2 linked regions of the Homo sapiens genome follow. The protein of the gene in region 1 purifies or fractionates together with the protein of each later gene. This does not show direct contact. Each region holds a gene or a part of one and is shown on either strand. Other genes may lie near its edges.

Region 1 (7,955 bases):
GCTCACGGCTGTAATCCCAGCACTTTGGGAGGCCGAGGCGAGCAGATCACGAGGTCAGGAGTTCAAGACCAGCCTGACCAACATGGTGAAACCCTGTCTCTACTAAAAATACAAAAAAAAATTAGCCAGGAGTGGTGGCGCACACCTGTAATCCCAGCTACTCAGGAGGCTGAGGCAGGAGAATCGCTTGAACCCGGGAGGCAGAGGTTGCAATGAGCCGAAATCATGTCATTGTATTCCAGCCTGGGTGACAGAGGAAGACTCTGTCTCAAAAAAAAAAAAAAAAAAAAGGTGAAAAGAAAATTAATTTTTGCAGTGAAAATGAAGATTCTTCAAAACTTCACAGTTAGAAGAAAATAGCTATAAAGATAACCTTGAATAATCATCCTTGAATGATTCACACCATGACATTTGGCAGGATTATTCAGGAAGTAGACACTGGCTTTTAGAAGACACTAATAAATTCTGTTAAAAACTAACACTAAATAGTGATGAATCCATCGTCATGTATGTTAAGGGGAAAAAAAGGAAGAACTAAAATTATCTTAAAGTGGTTTTAAAAATAGCTTAGATATACAGTATCCGAACTCTTGTCAGCTTCCTCCCACAAGTTTTCTTTTCAATAATGGTGACTACTTCCTGCTTTTATTATATACCAACAACAATACTGATGAATAATTTATAAAACATGTACATAAAAATATTAATGTCCTAGAAATAAGAAGCAAGAAATATTAATCTAGGAGGAGGGCTACTGTGATGTTTACTATGGCACAGAATAGCTATTTACTAAATGATCTGCTTCAAGAGCTATTCCAAATCAATATTTGGTATTACCTGAAATATCCTTGGAATTCCTCCAGTATTGTAGTGAACTACTAGGCTGACTTTATTCTCTTTTTCTACAATTTCAAAGGATCCTTCTTTCCACTTTGTAATCCCAGTCTGCATACTTCGAATTCTGATAGGACCATGTATCTTCAGAGGAGACATATTTTCTTTAAAAATTGCTTCTGGCTAAATTAAAAAGCAAAAATATACCTTTACCTGGCAGGTTCTAAGGAAGAAAAATAAGATAAGTTATAACTTACTAGTAATTAATTTCTAACCACCATGCATTTCTTCTGCGCCTTCATTTTCCCTTCTTTGCCATGTGTCCAGTACTGTATTTATTAGTGCCTAAATTCTACATTTTGTATCATTCACAACCATACTGCTACCGCTAAAGACATGTCAACAGGAATAAGATCCCATTCTCAAAGTGATTGCCTTCACCATTAAAGTGTTGATTATTCTCTTCCTTCATGAAAGCTAATGGGTCTGGATTTCCAAATATAAGTTAAAAAAAAAAAAAAAGTGTGTTCAGGCCAGGCATGGTGGCTCAGCCTGTAATCCCAAAACTTTGAGAAGTTGAGGTGGGAGGACTGCTTAAGCCTGGGAATTTGAGACCAGCCTGGGCAACACAGGGAGGCTCTATCGCTACAAAAAAACTGAAAAAACATTAGCCAGGCATGGTGATACACGCCTATAGTCTCAGCTTCTAGAGGGGCTGAAGTGGGAGGATCACTTGAGCACAGGAGGTCAAGGCTGCAGTGAGCCATGACTACCCACTGCACTCCCGCCTGGGCAATAGAGTGAAGACACTGTCTCAAAACAAAACAAAACAATACAAAATTCAGGCCTCTGACTCCATTTCTTAGAATGGAGTTCCTCCCAAAACATCAAAGTATATCACCAAATGCTTCCTTCTAACAGTGAGCAATCTAAGCATATCCGTATGTACAGAAGACATTAAATGAGTAAAAAATTTTAAAAATAACCAAGTTATTTGACCTCCAGAATTACAATATTTGAGGAAATCATTTAATCTCTAGAGAAAACAAACAAAAAACCTCTCTTCCAAAGAACCACCTACCATTTATATTTAAACTACCATTCCTAGAAAGAATCTTTACCAATTTTATCTTTAACAAATACTCAAGTTTCCTGAATGAACTTTTAATACTCAAAAATGGCTGGGTGCTTGTCAGGCAATATTTGAAAACTAAAAAGAAAAAATGGCCGGACACAGTGGCTCATGCCTGTAATCCCAGCACTTTGGAAGGATGAGGTGGGCAGACTGCTTGAGCAACACGGCAAAAACCTCATCTCTACAAAAAATACCAAAAAATTAGCCTGGCATGGTCATGTGCTCCTGTAGCTCCAACTACTCCAGAGGCTGAGATGGGAGGATCACCTGAGCCAGGGAGGTCGAGGCTGCAGTGAGCCATGATTGCACCACTCAATTCCAGCCTAGGTGACACTCTGAGTGAGACCCTGTCTCAAAACAAACAAACAAAAAAAAAACACAAAAAACTTAAACTTACAGCAATAATCGGATGTGTAAAACTCTTCAAATTAGCTTTTGCAAAAGTCAACAAGTAAATAAAATTACAGTTATAGCAAAGAATGTTATCAAATAGTGTGTTACATACATAAATATGCAATCATTTAAAATTGCGAACTCAAATTTTATACTATTTCAAACCTTTAAAAACACTACTTCTAAAGTGGATTCTTGCTTATAATTTACTAAATTAAACACAATTAAACATTACCTTTGCCTAAACAGCTCAACAAGAAAAGCCAGAAAGGCTAGTATATAAAGGAAAATGATGCTAGGTCTAGAAATCAGCAGCCAGCCAGCCCTATCACTTACTAATTTGTAACTTACCTTCTTTAACCATAAGTTTTCTCAACCACAAAATAGGAATAGCAAATGTTTTAGTGTTGTAGAATGAAATAATACATACTAGGCACTCAGCAGACAGCAGTAATTAATATTAATGGAATTAATGTCTGTTTTCTGAATTTATTCCATGTCCATAATACCTCTTTCTCCAAAGACCTCAATAAATACAATGTTAACAGGAGTCACTAACTCAACTATCTATAGGGGCTAGCAGGTGACAGAAATGACTTAAGCAGGCAAAATTTGAACAATTGCTACCCAATCTAGCCAATTATTACCATGTAGAAATAGCGAACCTAGCATTGCCAGACCATCTAACTTTTCAAGAAAATAAAGACATCCAAACGTTTATGTAAAACTGTCCATTTTTAATTGTTGGCAATGAATTCAAATTTATTTTTAACAGCTACAAATCAAACAAAACTCACCTACAGGCAGGATACAGTTTGGGGGCCCCTAGTTGGAGGTCTCTGGTTACTGTATGGCAAATAACTGAAGATAAAAGAAGATATATGAAAACACTTTCGAGAGTTTAAAGGTGTTAAGTATCATAAGTACTCTATTATTATTCACTCATCTCATCAAAAATTTTTAAGTGCTTACTATGGGCAGATTTAGATATTAGTATAATGTGCTGGGTAATATGAATTCGTCAAAGTAATAGAGTCCATTAATGTTTATAGAACTGTCTGTTAACATGACATTTGGCTCAAACTAGTAATGCTACAGAGCTACAGAAACTTGAGCCAGCAATGTATATCTGTAATACTTTTTTCTGCAATTATAATTTGTGACTTTATTGTTGGATACATCCTTGAGACTTTTTTCCACTCCGCCACTCAGTGCTACAAAGAATACATCACTCTTCTACTCCAGTTTCCCATGCCAGAAACAGAAGACTTGTCTTTGGCTTCCTTCTTGATAATTATTGGTATTAGATTAGAGATGGAAAGTCAGGAGAATCCCATCAATTCTGCCTCCACAGATCGGGAGCTGTGGCTGATGCCTGTAATCCCAGCACTTTGCGAGGCCGAGGTGGGCAGATCACCTGAGGTCAGGAGTTTGAGACCAGCCTGGCCAACATGGTGAAACCCCATCTCTACCAAAAATACAAAAATTAGCCAGGTGTGGTGGCGTGCGCCTGTAATTCCAGCTACTTGGGAGGCTGAGGCAAGAGAATCGCTGGAATCCGGGAGGCAGAGGCTGCAGTGAGCCGAGATCATACCACTGCACTCCAGCCTGGAGCCAGACTCTGTCTCAGAAAAAAAAAAAAAAAAATTCTACCTCCATACACCTTTCAGACAGCCTTATAATGAACTGCAGATCAAATCATATCCCTCTCTTGCTTTATATCATTCAATAGCTCTCCACTTGTTCTCGCAATAAAATCTAAACTCACTAATGTGACGTAGAGGCCCTTCAGGACTCAGGCCCTGCTTACCTGTCTATTCCCAATAAAACCCCCAAATCCTTCTGAATTACTTATAATTTCCTCAAAAATCTCTATGTTCTCATGCCACTATACCTTTGCATACACAGAGGTCATGTCTAGAGGATTTTTATGTGTTCTCCCCATCCCCAACCCTCCTTAATTTCTTCTCCTGGCTCTAAAATCAAGACTCAATTTACACATTACCCTCTTTAAAAAGCTTTATATAAAAGATGTAGGACATAAAATTGGCAGAACCAATATAATAAACTTTTTCATAATGCCTCAATTTAGTTCATTACCTGCTTTTGCACTAAATGAATTGACAGCTACATTTGCTCATTCATTATATTATCAGGGCTTGCTCTACTTGGTTAAGAGTAAAAAACTAAGTTTCTTTTTCAGCATGAAGCATGATCCAGTAACAGTTAAACTTCCTATGAACCTAAGACAAAGACAGGGTTTCCTTAAACTCGGTAATGGTAATTGTCTTATTAAAGCAAAAAAATAAGAAGACAAAAGATAATTAAAATGAATTATTCTTTAAATATGTCCAGAGATTCTTTCTCTAAATTTCTTCACAATTATTAAAATTACTGTTCAACTTTGAGCATCACCATGAATGCTCAAAGCAACAATATTAGCAAAAATGTTTCTATGCCCTGTACATTTATTTAAGTGCTCACATTTTAGGTACTGCTTTGAAAACATCCTTAATCAGAGAGCATTCAGTGGTAAATAAAGTATGGCCAAAACACAAAAACTATTACTACAAAACAAACACAAAACTGTCAGTTCCCGCCAGATTGCATGCTCTTTGAAACATATATCCAAAACAAAAACATTACTTACTTTTCAGTGACTTTTACCGAAAAACCCTATGTAATAGCAATTCACCTTTATTCTGATCCTTGTGCCAAAGGCAAAGCACTCTTCTTGGGACACTACTCATATTCTGCAGCTATGCCAGTTCTCCGGAAGCCATCAACTCAGCTAAAGAAAATAAAAATGTGCTTTTTAAAAAGAACCCAATATACAAAATTAATACTTAAAAGAAAGTGGGCTGGGCACGGTGGCTGACGCGAGTAATCCCAGCACTTTGAGAGGTGGAGGCGGGCAGATAACCTGAGGTCAGGAGTTCGAGACCAGCCTGACCAACATGGAGAAACCCCGTCTCTACTAAAAATACAAAATTAGCTGGGCGTGGCAGTGCATGTCTGTAATCCCAGCTACTCGGGAGGCTGAGGCAGGAGAATTGCTTGAACCCAGGAGGTGGAGGTTGCAGTGAGCAGAGATCACGCCATTGCACTCCAACCTGGGCAACAAGAGCAAAACTCCATCTCAAAAAAAAAAAAAAAGGAAAGTGATCGTTTATACAACAAAGATTAACTTCTTGGTTATTTAAAAACTACAGATTACCTTAATGAAAATATTTAAAATATGATGCACAACACACAGAGACACACATAAAAGATCAACAGAACTTTAGGAACTTATCTGCTGTGCATAATGAGGGATTACAGGATGAGCCTGCACCTTGTTCAACTTGTACCTTGGTTTATTCATTCTTGCTACATTTTGAAACTAAGAAGTCAGTGAGAAAGAATATGTCCTTTGTTCACTTTATAAACATTGTTACATAATAATGTCTTAAGTCTTAAAACTTCCATAACATGTTGATACTATTTCAAAAGGTGGGTAAACTTGGTGCTTTCACTTTTCTTTCAAAGCTAACATTGTTTCTCAAATTAGGCTTCACTAGGCCTGAACTTTCTCTGAAGTTCTACCCGCACATCTCTCACTGCCTATCTGAATGCTACAACATCAACTTTAAACTCCTTTGTTCATTTAGTAAACAACATTTATTAAGCTACTGCACTTTCAAGGCACCCTGGTAGGCATATAGATGTGAAGATGATACAGTCCATGCCCTCATTAAGAAGCTCCTAGAGGCCAGGCACGGTGGCTCACACCTGTAATCCCAGCACTTTGGGAGGCAGAGACAGGCAGATCACCTGAGGTCAGGAGTTCGAGACCAGCCTGGCCAATGTGGTCTCGAACACATTGAGACCACAATGTGTTCTCACTAAAAATACAAAATTTAGCTGGGTGTGGTGGCACACACCTGTAGTTCCAGCTACTTGGAAGGCTGAGGCAGGAGAGTCATTTGAACCTGGGAGGCAAAGGTTGCAGGGAGCAGAGATCACACCACTACACTCCAGCCTGGGTGAGGGAGCAAGACTCCGTCTCAAAAGAAAGAAAAAAAAAGAAGCTCCCAGACTTCCCTACTTTTGTCCTTCTACCATCATTCAGGCAAGAAATCTTGGCATCAGCTTTATCCTCACTCTTATCTACTCAAATCCCAGATTTTCAATAGCTACTACTCTCAGAAACTCATCACTATGCCATCATCCCACCTAGTATTTATTATGCAACCCAACATTTATTATGCAACATTTACTAAGCAGTGCTAAATGCCATACATGCATTATCTCAATTTAATTTTTAAAATAATCCTAAGTGATAGGGATATTATCTCTATTTCACAGATGAGGAAACTGAGGTTTAGAGACATTACATAATTTATAAATACAGTCAGTGAGAAACAAAGCTATGTCTAATGCCAGAACCTACATTTTTAACTACAACCACAGTTCATCCTCATCAATGAATTATGGCAACCCCTTCCCTTTCCAGTCTCAGCTCTTGGGGTTTTACCTCCAACAAATCCTTTACATTGTAACATCCTTTCTAAAGAACTACTCTTTTTACCACTTTTCAACTGAACTATGCACTAGGTATCTTCTTAACTTTCTCCCTAAGGTGGGAGTGGGGGGTAGAGGTGGGGCACGGGACAGGGAGGTAACACACAGAACTTGGGTACTCTAACTGTATACTCCAACAAAATAACAAACACTTGTTAAGTGCTAAATGGTTGCCATTGATGCTAGGACCTTCCCAAACTAAATAGCTCATCACTACCTAGAAAATAAAATAAATCCAAATGCTTGTGTTTGGTATTCATACACCTCCATTTTAAATTCCCTATTTTTCAACACGAATCCTGTTCTACACATACAAAAATTATTATATTTTAATATTTTCTTTCTTTTTCATTTGAGACAGAACCTCATTCTGTCACCCAGACTGGAACACAGTGGTGCCATCTTGGCTCACTGCAACCTCCACCTCCTAGGCTGAAGCAATCCTCCCACCTCAGCCTCCCAAGTAGCTAGGACTACAGGCACATGCCACCAAACCCGGCTAATTTTTGTAATTTTTTATAGACATGGGGTTTTGCCATGTTGCCCAGGCTGGTATCGAACTCCGGGGCTCAAGCGATCCGCCCACCTTGGTCTCCCGCAATGCTGGGATTACTGGCATGAGCCAATGCAGCTGGCCATATATTAATATTTTCTTTGTCATTCACCAACAACTGACTTAAATATGGAATTTTGCTTTATTTATGGAAATCTCATCTTCACTGGTCTTAAAGATTAACCGGTTGTTAAAATATACAAACCACTACTCTGATTTTTGAAGGCTTTCTTTCCTTTAAAAAGACCTATAAAACAAATGGACAAAGGAGAAAAAATTAGTTTTGTTACTGAAAGTGGAAAGCTGACCTAAAGTTTATCTCCAATTCAAAGAGTTTAAAATCTGAATGGTTTTATGATATAAAAATGGGTAAAAGAATCCAAAGTTGGAAAACGTTTTGTTTTTTCTCATGTGTCCTCTAACTTTTCAGAATGAAAAGTGTTTGTCATGAGATGATGACAAGAACATCAGCAAGCT
Region 2 (7,955 bases), on another chromosome or scaffold:
TTACTAGCTGTATGACCTGAGTAACTGGCAGTTTATGCTTACGAGCTCCATTTCACTAGCTGTAAAATGCAGGTGAAGCATTGTGCCAATTAAGTAATATATGTAAAGTGCATACAAGGGTAACTGGCATGTAGCACTCGCTCTCAATAAGCAGTTGCTACAGTTAGTAAACCTCCCCAAGACGACCTGCCAAGAGACCTCAGAATAAAATATCACCACTTTACATGAAACCGCAAAAAATATTTTGACCAGGTATTAACTATTATATAAATCATGTGAGAATGCCTCAAAGTTACCATTTGTTTTCCATATTTTACAAGCTATTCCCTAAACAACATATGTCTCTGTTTACTGTATTTCCTATTAGACTATGAATAAAAACTATTTGGGCTTACAATAAAAATAACTGAGTTAGGCGTGGTGGCTCATGTCTGTAATCCCAACACTCTGGGAGGCCAAGGCAGGCAAATCATTCGAGCCCAGGAGTTCAAGACCAGTCTGGGCAACATGGTGAGACCCTGTCTCTACAAAAAAGAAATTAGCTGAGCATAGTGACATGTGCCTGTGGTCCCAGCTACCTGAGAGGCTAAGGCAGGAAGATCGTGTGAGGCCAAGAGGTCAAGGCTGCAGTAAGCCATGTTTGTGCCACTGCAGTCCAGCCTGGGCGACCTGATGTCTCAAAGATAATAATAACTGCACTTCTTACAGTAAAACAAAGTTTTTACCAGGAATTCAGACACATAGACCTTCACTGATCCACACTCAAACATGGCCAAACATGACACTACGCACAAACGTCTAATATTTCTCCCTTTCCCTATTAATGGACAAAATAAATAAGGGAAAATATTTTTCAAAATTTCTTTCAGCGAGTTGAGTTCCACAAAACAAAACAATACAGGGTAATTGCTTACCTGGAAAATATTTTGTACTTCAGATCCACCAATCCAGAATGAATGGGGGTTTTCCCTTTCAGACTAGTCTGAGAAAAGACAGCAGTCAAGCATCTTCCAAGATTCTTTCCGTTTACTGTATCCAGCTTTCTTCAACAAAATCCCAAACATGCACTTCGGTAACTGTTGAAAGACAGAAAGCAATCCATACACCCACCATGGCACCAGCGGCAAAGGACAGCCTCCAAGAAATGGAAGGAAGGGTCAATGGAATGGTGGATCTGAGGCACAGGAAAAAAGTTATAACCCCTGAGTCAGCTATTTGGCATAAAATGCCTGCAGCAGCATTCCTCACCTCTGTGTTGAAAGGATACAAAACTCGTAACAAATAATGGAACATCCCTAATGTTAATATTTACTCATGATAAACAGCATGCAACTTCCAAATGAGAGCAGCTAAAAAATACCTACCCTATCATCCATATAAATTGTCCTAGACCATTCAGCTACACTGAACTTCCTTATCCATTTTCTAAGACAGCTCCTCCACCATTAGAAAAATAGTTTGTCAGCCAAAAAGAATGATACGAGAGGGCTCAAATATCTACCATAAAGATATTTATTTACGTACCTAACAAAATGTTTTGGTTTGCTACATATAAGACATCATATCTACATATTACCCAAATCCTCTACCCTTAGCTAAAATATAGTGTGCTTCAAAACATATAACTGAAGACTGAACTTCTGACTCAGTAAAGGCCAGTCCCGTACAATGGCCAATGATCACGTAAACTGGGAAAAATCATAAAGAACGCTAATATACAATTTACTAGGTGACACCATTAAATATTAAGTCCTGTCCATATTATATCAATATTCTTTTTCTACCATATCAAATTAGACTGCAAATTCTAAACAAACTAAAAGGGAAAGAGAAAAAGCATTCAGCAGAACAACAAAGATAAAAACAAAAAGACTGAACTTACTCGAACATAAATTTGCTACTTCCACAATTGCTACATTATAGCCAAAATGCTCCTGCAGTAATTATAGTAATACCTACCTTATTGAAAAGCTACTAACTGGCCAAGCCCTTTACATTAATTACCCATATTTAATTCTCAAAAAAAGATGAGCAGAAAGAAGTAACCTATCCAAAGTCCCACATCTACTAGGTAGTAGAGCCCATGCCCTTTTCATGGAGCACTATGGACTCCACAGTTCAAGGGTCAGAAAGCCCATGATTTCTGAGAGAGGAGAAGAAATCAAGCTTTACTCTCAAAGGTCCTAAATTAATTAACATCAAAATGGAGAACAATGAAAATACAGAAGAGTAAATATTTCAGCCTACATGAATCAGTTGGGCCATCCTGAAAGGGTAATTCCCTAGATCTTGCCACTTAAAAAAGCATTTAATTAACAAAGAGCCATGCAATTCTACAGCCCATGATATTTTTTTCTTGTCTTTTTTTTTTTTTTTTTAAGTAGAGACAGGGTTTCACCATGTTGCCCAGGCTGGCCTCGAACTCCTAAGCTCAAGCGATCTGCCTACCTTGGCCTCCCAAAGGGCTGGGATTACAGGTGTGAGCCCCCATGCCCAGCCTAAAGCCCACAATATTAATGCTAAAACAAAACACATTATAGGCTGGGCTCGATGGCTCACACCTGTAGTCCCAACATTTTGGGAGGCCGAGGCGGGCAGATCACTTGAGGTCAGGAGTGTGAGGCCAGCCTGACCAACATGGTGAAACCCCATCTCTACTAAAAGTACAAAAATTAACCGGGCCTGGTGGCACATGCCTACAATCCCAGCTACTCGGGAGGCTGAGGAAGGAGAATCACTTGAACCCGGGAGACAGAGGCTGCAGTGAGCTGAGATCGTGCCACTGTACTCCAGCCTGGTTAACAGAGCAAGACTCCGTCTCAAAAAAAAAAAAAAAAAAAAGACTGTGGCAAGACATACTATAATGGTACTCAAGTAGTCTTTGTGTTTAGCAGCAAAGATTGTAACTGTGACAAAGAATCTCAAATCCAGCTGAACCCAAGTAATTTTTAAATTCTAAGATTTGTTGACAGTCCACAGGCAATGACTCTTAAAGATGTTCTGATTGTTCATATTGTAGGTAAGGCAATTAAAGTGACTGAAATACCGGTCTATGATTAACCTCGCCATAACAATCAGATGAAAATACCTTAAGACTCACAACTTTAAGGAGATCACAAAAGTAAAATCCCAAGCAAATAATGAGTTCTCAAGTTTTTCCCATTAAGTGGTATTACTCCTAAGCCTAAGAATAAACTGGAAACCCAATTTTGACAGAAGTAGCTAGGGAACTATGGCTAGTAGCGAACTGCTAAAACAGTATACTATGCTTTTCAAGGTACGACTATCCAAAATGCAAAACAAGTTATAGCAAAACACAACCACAGCAATTTGACTAACAGACTCATTTCTGGACCTCTTGAATCCTCAGGCTTTTCCCCTGTACTAGTGAGTTAATTTTTCTCCCTTCCCTTCAAAAAAAAAAAATATATATATATATACACACACATATATATTTCTTCAATCCCTAATTGTATATATATATTTCTTCAATCCCTAATTGCTGGCAGGCCTTATGCTAGTAATACAAAGATTAACAGATGCCAGGTGAGTAGTGTCAGGACTGAGTTCTTCCTGCCCCTCTGCCCCCTTTCTCTTTGAATCTATCATGTAGTCATTTCAGAGGGCCAAAATATATTTTATTGTTAGTTACCAAAACTGGTTCAATGTTCTCCAGTTAACTCCTAAAAAAATAAACATTAAAAATTACTCAAGTTCCTTTTTCACAATAGTAGAACCTCAGTCTTTCTTTTTCTTCTGTGGATCAGAGGCTTTTTACTATACAATGGTTTCCTACATTCAATATGCTTATATTTACACACCTCTCTATCACAAGCCAAAGAGCCAAAGCTTTTTTTTTTATTTTTCCTATTAATGTCCCAGTGTTTATACTTCACAGCTTTCCATTTTGTGAAGCTCTTCATTGTTAACTCAACCTGAGAGGGAATTTCCTAAAAACGCTTCCCGCTGACATCACAGAACTCTTCCATCTTTTAGTTTCATTAAAACACTAAGAACCAGGTAAGAGATACCCTACTGGATTGTCAGGTCTTCCTGGTCTGTCTCTCATTTGCCTACAAAGACAAACTTCCTCTTAAGCAATTGCGATCAGCAGAAACTAACCAAGGGTAACGAGCACATTCTTAACCAACACGTTTCTTCCCCCATTGTCATCTAATTCAATGAACAATACAACTCAGAAGAAAATCTTGTATGAATTCTCACTGCTTATTCTGTTAAGGTTAAAACCATCAGCTTTGATGATGGTAAGAATAAGAATTCAAAAACCACAATTTGGTCAGTCTAAACTAAACCGATCAAACATAAATCCCAATGCTCAATGTCAATATAAACTAATCACCAGTCTCTTTCTGTCAGGATACCAGGCATAAAAATAGGACTGGGTGGGTTCTCTCTGTAGTTACAGCATAGATCTAATTACGCCAAATTGGTAGTCATTGAAATAGTACCTCCCAGATTTTCCAAGACAGTATTGACTCTGCATGATTTCATTGTTTTTCCCAAAGATGGCTCATTAAATGTATGGCTAAAAGCAACTAAATGTTAGTCTTCTGTAAAGCCTCACAAATAAATACATGCGCAACTCAGGAGAAAGACCTTTTCCACACCATCGGTCTTGACTTCGCTTTAGGGTCCCTGTACTTGTGGGGAAAGTTAGTATGGTCAGCATTTGAAGAAAAGCAAGCCTCTGCAAAGTCCTTTCACACACATCTCTCATATAATCCTCCCAACAACTCAGACCAATACCTAAGTTTTCTTATTTATTTTTACATATAATCAAATCATACTGCAGAAAGGTTACCTTTCTTTATGTCACACAGCTAGCAAGCGACAGAGCTTGGATACAAACTCAGGTGTTTCACTTCAAAGCCCATGCCCTTTCTGCTAAACCATGCTTTTCTAAGGTCATGGAGCCCTTGGAGCTTATCAACTATTTGGCAAACCTGCACCAACTGATGCAAAAAGTATTCAGTTTCCTCAGTTCTTTGCTAACAACCAGTCTCTGAGTTCTATGTAAATCAATCTGTATGTGTGGAAAGTCTGTAAATAATGGTTAATATGTCTATGGATGTCCTATAAACAACACACCACCCACCTCTTCCCCCTCCCCATCTTTCTTCTCTATTCATCTCTACCTTTGTCTTAAGATATTCAAAAGGAAATCTTAAAAGGTTTCACTGCATGAAAGAAAGAAAATCTAACATTAATTTAAATCCATATTGAGCACCCATGTGCTGAGGAGTAACAGGGCAATCAAACACAGCCTCTAGAAGAAGAGTTTAGGCACAACCACAAGTTTTTATAATATAATAGGATGATATGATAAGTCCCATAAAAATTTGGAACTGATTATTGTGAGAATTAGTAATGTGGGTGAAAATGTTTAGAAAAGAGGATAGTTAAGACACAGGCAAAAGGCAATAATGTCTGAAAATGATCACCAGGAAAATTCAACCCAACATTTCCTGAAAGCCTACCACAAAGAAGACACCGTGTGTATGAAGGAACTGTGTGTCACTGGAAGATAATTAAGGTCCCAGCCCTTCCCATGAGGAGTTTATCATTCAACAGAGGACACAAACAGGTAACTATATTACAAGCCTGAAATATGTTAAGTGCTACAGGATAAATACAAAGTGCCAGAATTCATTCATTTCATTTGAGTGTCATATAGGCAGTGCTATACAGACACAAAAACCAGACAGTCTCTGCTACCATAATATAAACTGACATCAAAAGAGGTGGCACCTATTGTGTTTTATGGGTGGATAGGACTTCATTAGCATAAATGAAAGAGAAGATTGCTGAGATATAACCTAAGCCAATTTGGCCAGAGAACCACCTATTAGATCCTTTTGATAAATATCAGTAGCCTTCAATAAATGGGCTTAGGTCCATTCCTATCAGTGCTGACAAAGGAAACGTGTGAGCAGAATCTGGAGGACCATGGTCCTCCATGTGCTAGAATATACAGTAAGCAAGGAAAGTAGGCAGAAAAGCCATAAGGGAGAATGGAATACAAAGGAAGACTGGAATTGGAATCACTAGGACTTAAAATGCTTTGTTTTCTATGAAGAACAAATATCACAAGGTAGAACCCAGGATCCCACAGATCTTACAGGGCAGATAATTTTGTTTCTAGAATTCACAGGCTCAAACAACACTAGTAAGAGGCATATATGTGCTGTTGTGAATCTATGTAATGGCTGAGTGATTCTCCTGGGCTAGCTCCCTATTTGCAGGAGACAGACTATAGCAGTCAAGAGCCCAGAATGCCAAGACTTGTGTGCAGGAACATGTTTATCCATGTCAAATCTGAAAGGATATCTAACCTACTGCAAAATCAGGGGCAAAAATTGATATATTTGAGCCAATGCCTCTTTAGGCAGGTCAGTGAGGTCCATATATTTTATATAAATGTGTGTGTGTGTGTGTGTGTGTGTGTGTGTGGTTTATTCATTTGGACCCTATTGAAACCTGTGTCCACTGAGTCTGCATTCAGTAAGTTAGCACCCCTAGTGGTGTGCTACATGAGGAGAAAGGTGGTGACAAAGTAATATCCAATTTCTTGATGAAGTCACTAAACAACCCCACTCACCCCGAGAAAGTCAATGACAGGAAGAAAAAAAAAAGATCCAAAAAGAAAAAAAGACAACATTTCCAGTAACTTCATTTATTCGTTTCTTTCTTTTTTCTTTTCTTTTTTTTTTTTTTTTTTTTTGAGAGTGTCTTGCTCTGTTACCCAGGCTGGAGTGCAGTGGCACAATCACAGGTCACTGCAACCTCAAACTCCTGGGCTCAAGCAATCCTCCCCACCTCAGGCTCCTGAGTAGCAGGGACTATAGGAGTGAACCACTATGCCTGGCTAATTTTTTTATTTTTTGTAGAGACAGGGTTTTGTTATGTTGCCTAGGCTGGTCTCTAACTCCTGGGCTCAAGCAATCCTCCCACCTCCTAAAGTGCTGGGATTACAGGCTAGAGCCACCGCACCTGCCCACACCTTCTTAATAAGGATCAGTGTATTTTAACCTACATTACTTCATTGAACAAGTAATACAGCCACTTAAGAGATAAGACAGAAGGGAAATGACTCACTTAAGGTCACTTAGCAAAAAGGGAAGTCATTTAACAATTAATTATAAACCATCCATTAATTGTGTAAAGGGAAGAGGGGATTCACTCACACCCGTGGAGGAGGCAGGATCGCCTTTCCTAAAGTGATAGCATCAATTTCTGCTGGCTTCTTACAGGGTAATCTAATCATCTTTCTCTTCCAATCAGAAGCTCTTGTGAGTGCTTTCTAGTGATGAGTGCCTGAAAATCAAGTCATATTCCTAACTCAAAGGTTAATAAATACCACGTGATACATATTGTACAGTTCTCATTCTTCCCAATGAAGTCCATTGAACATAGCCGGATAAACTTTACATATTTCCAAAATGAATTACTAGTTTTCTGCCTCATTCATAAGGCGAATTTTACCAAACTCAGAAGTTTGGAAAAATAGGCCCACTAACAGGTATAGCCCTGGGCCAATATAAGGCCCTAAAAGTCATCTGGCGGTTAAATTATTTACCATTAGTAACTGTAAATTCAGGGTCTAAATTAAGAGCTTATAGACTTTACTAATATTCAAAGCTGAATCCTATAGAGTGGGTCAGGAGGAGAAGCAACCTGGGTGGACCCAGGCCTCAGGCAGCGGTAGGAGTCAAAGTGGGGGTTATATTTTAGAAATTTAACTATTCTGCTATCACCAGCTTTATTTCCTAATATACTTATCAAAAATGCAAGGAAAAACAGAAGAATCAATATTAAGGAAAGTACAGGGATGAAGATTAGAAAATGGAGATAACCAAGAAGTCTGTTTCCTCTTTTTAATACAGCACACTTTGGAACAGCAAATGAAAGTTATCTTGTTAAGCATTAAGTGCCAA

What was found.
Region 2: the proteins of USP37 (region 1) and FBXW11 purify together in Homo sapiens (affinity purification with mass spectrometry; 7 studies listed by BioGRID and IntAct, with this or other methods). This does not show direct contact.

Annotation. Positions count from the first base shown.
Region 1 is NC_000002.12:218,557,661-218,565,615, forward strand, and holds part of USP37 (ubiquitin carboxyl-terminal hydrolase 37), read right to left. Parts: intron 5,154-7,955; 5' UTR 5,013-5,153; intron 3,224-5,012; 5' UTR 3,160-3,223; intron 1,018-3,159; 5' UTR 994-1,017; coding exon 838-993; intron 1-837. UniProt on the Homo sapiens protein: Deubiquitinase that plays a role in different processes including cell cycle regulation, DNA replication or DNA damage response.
Region 2 is NC_000005.10:171,995,976-172,003,930, forward strand, and holds part of FBXW11 (F-box/WD repeat-containing protein 11), read right to left. Parts: intron 7,336-7,955; exon of another isoform or gene 7,206-7,335; intron 1,077-7,205; exon of another isoform or gene 915-1,076; intron 1-914.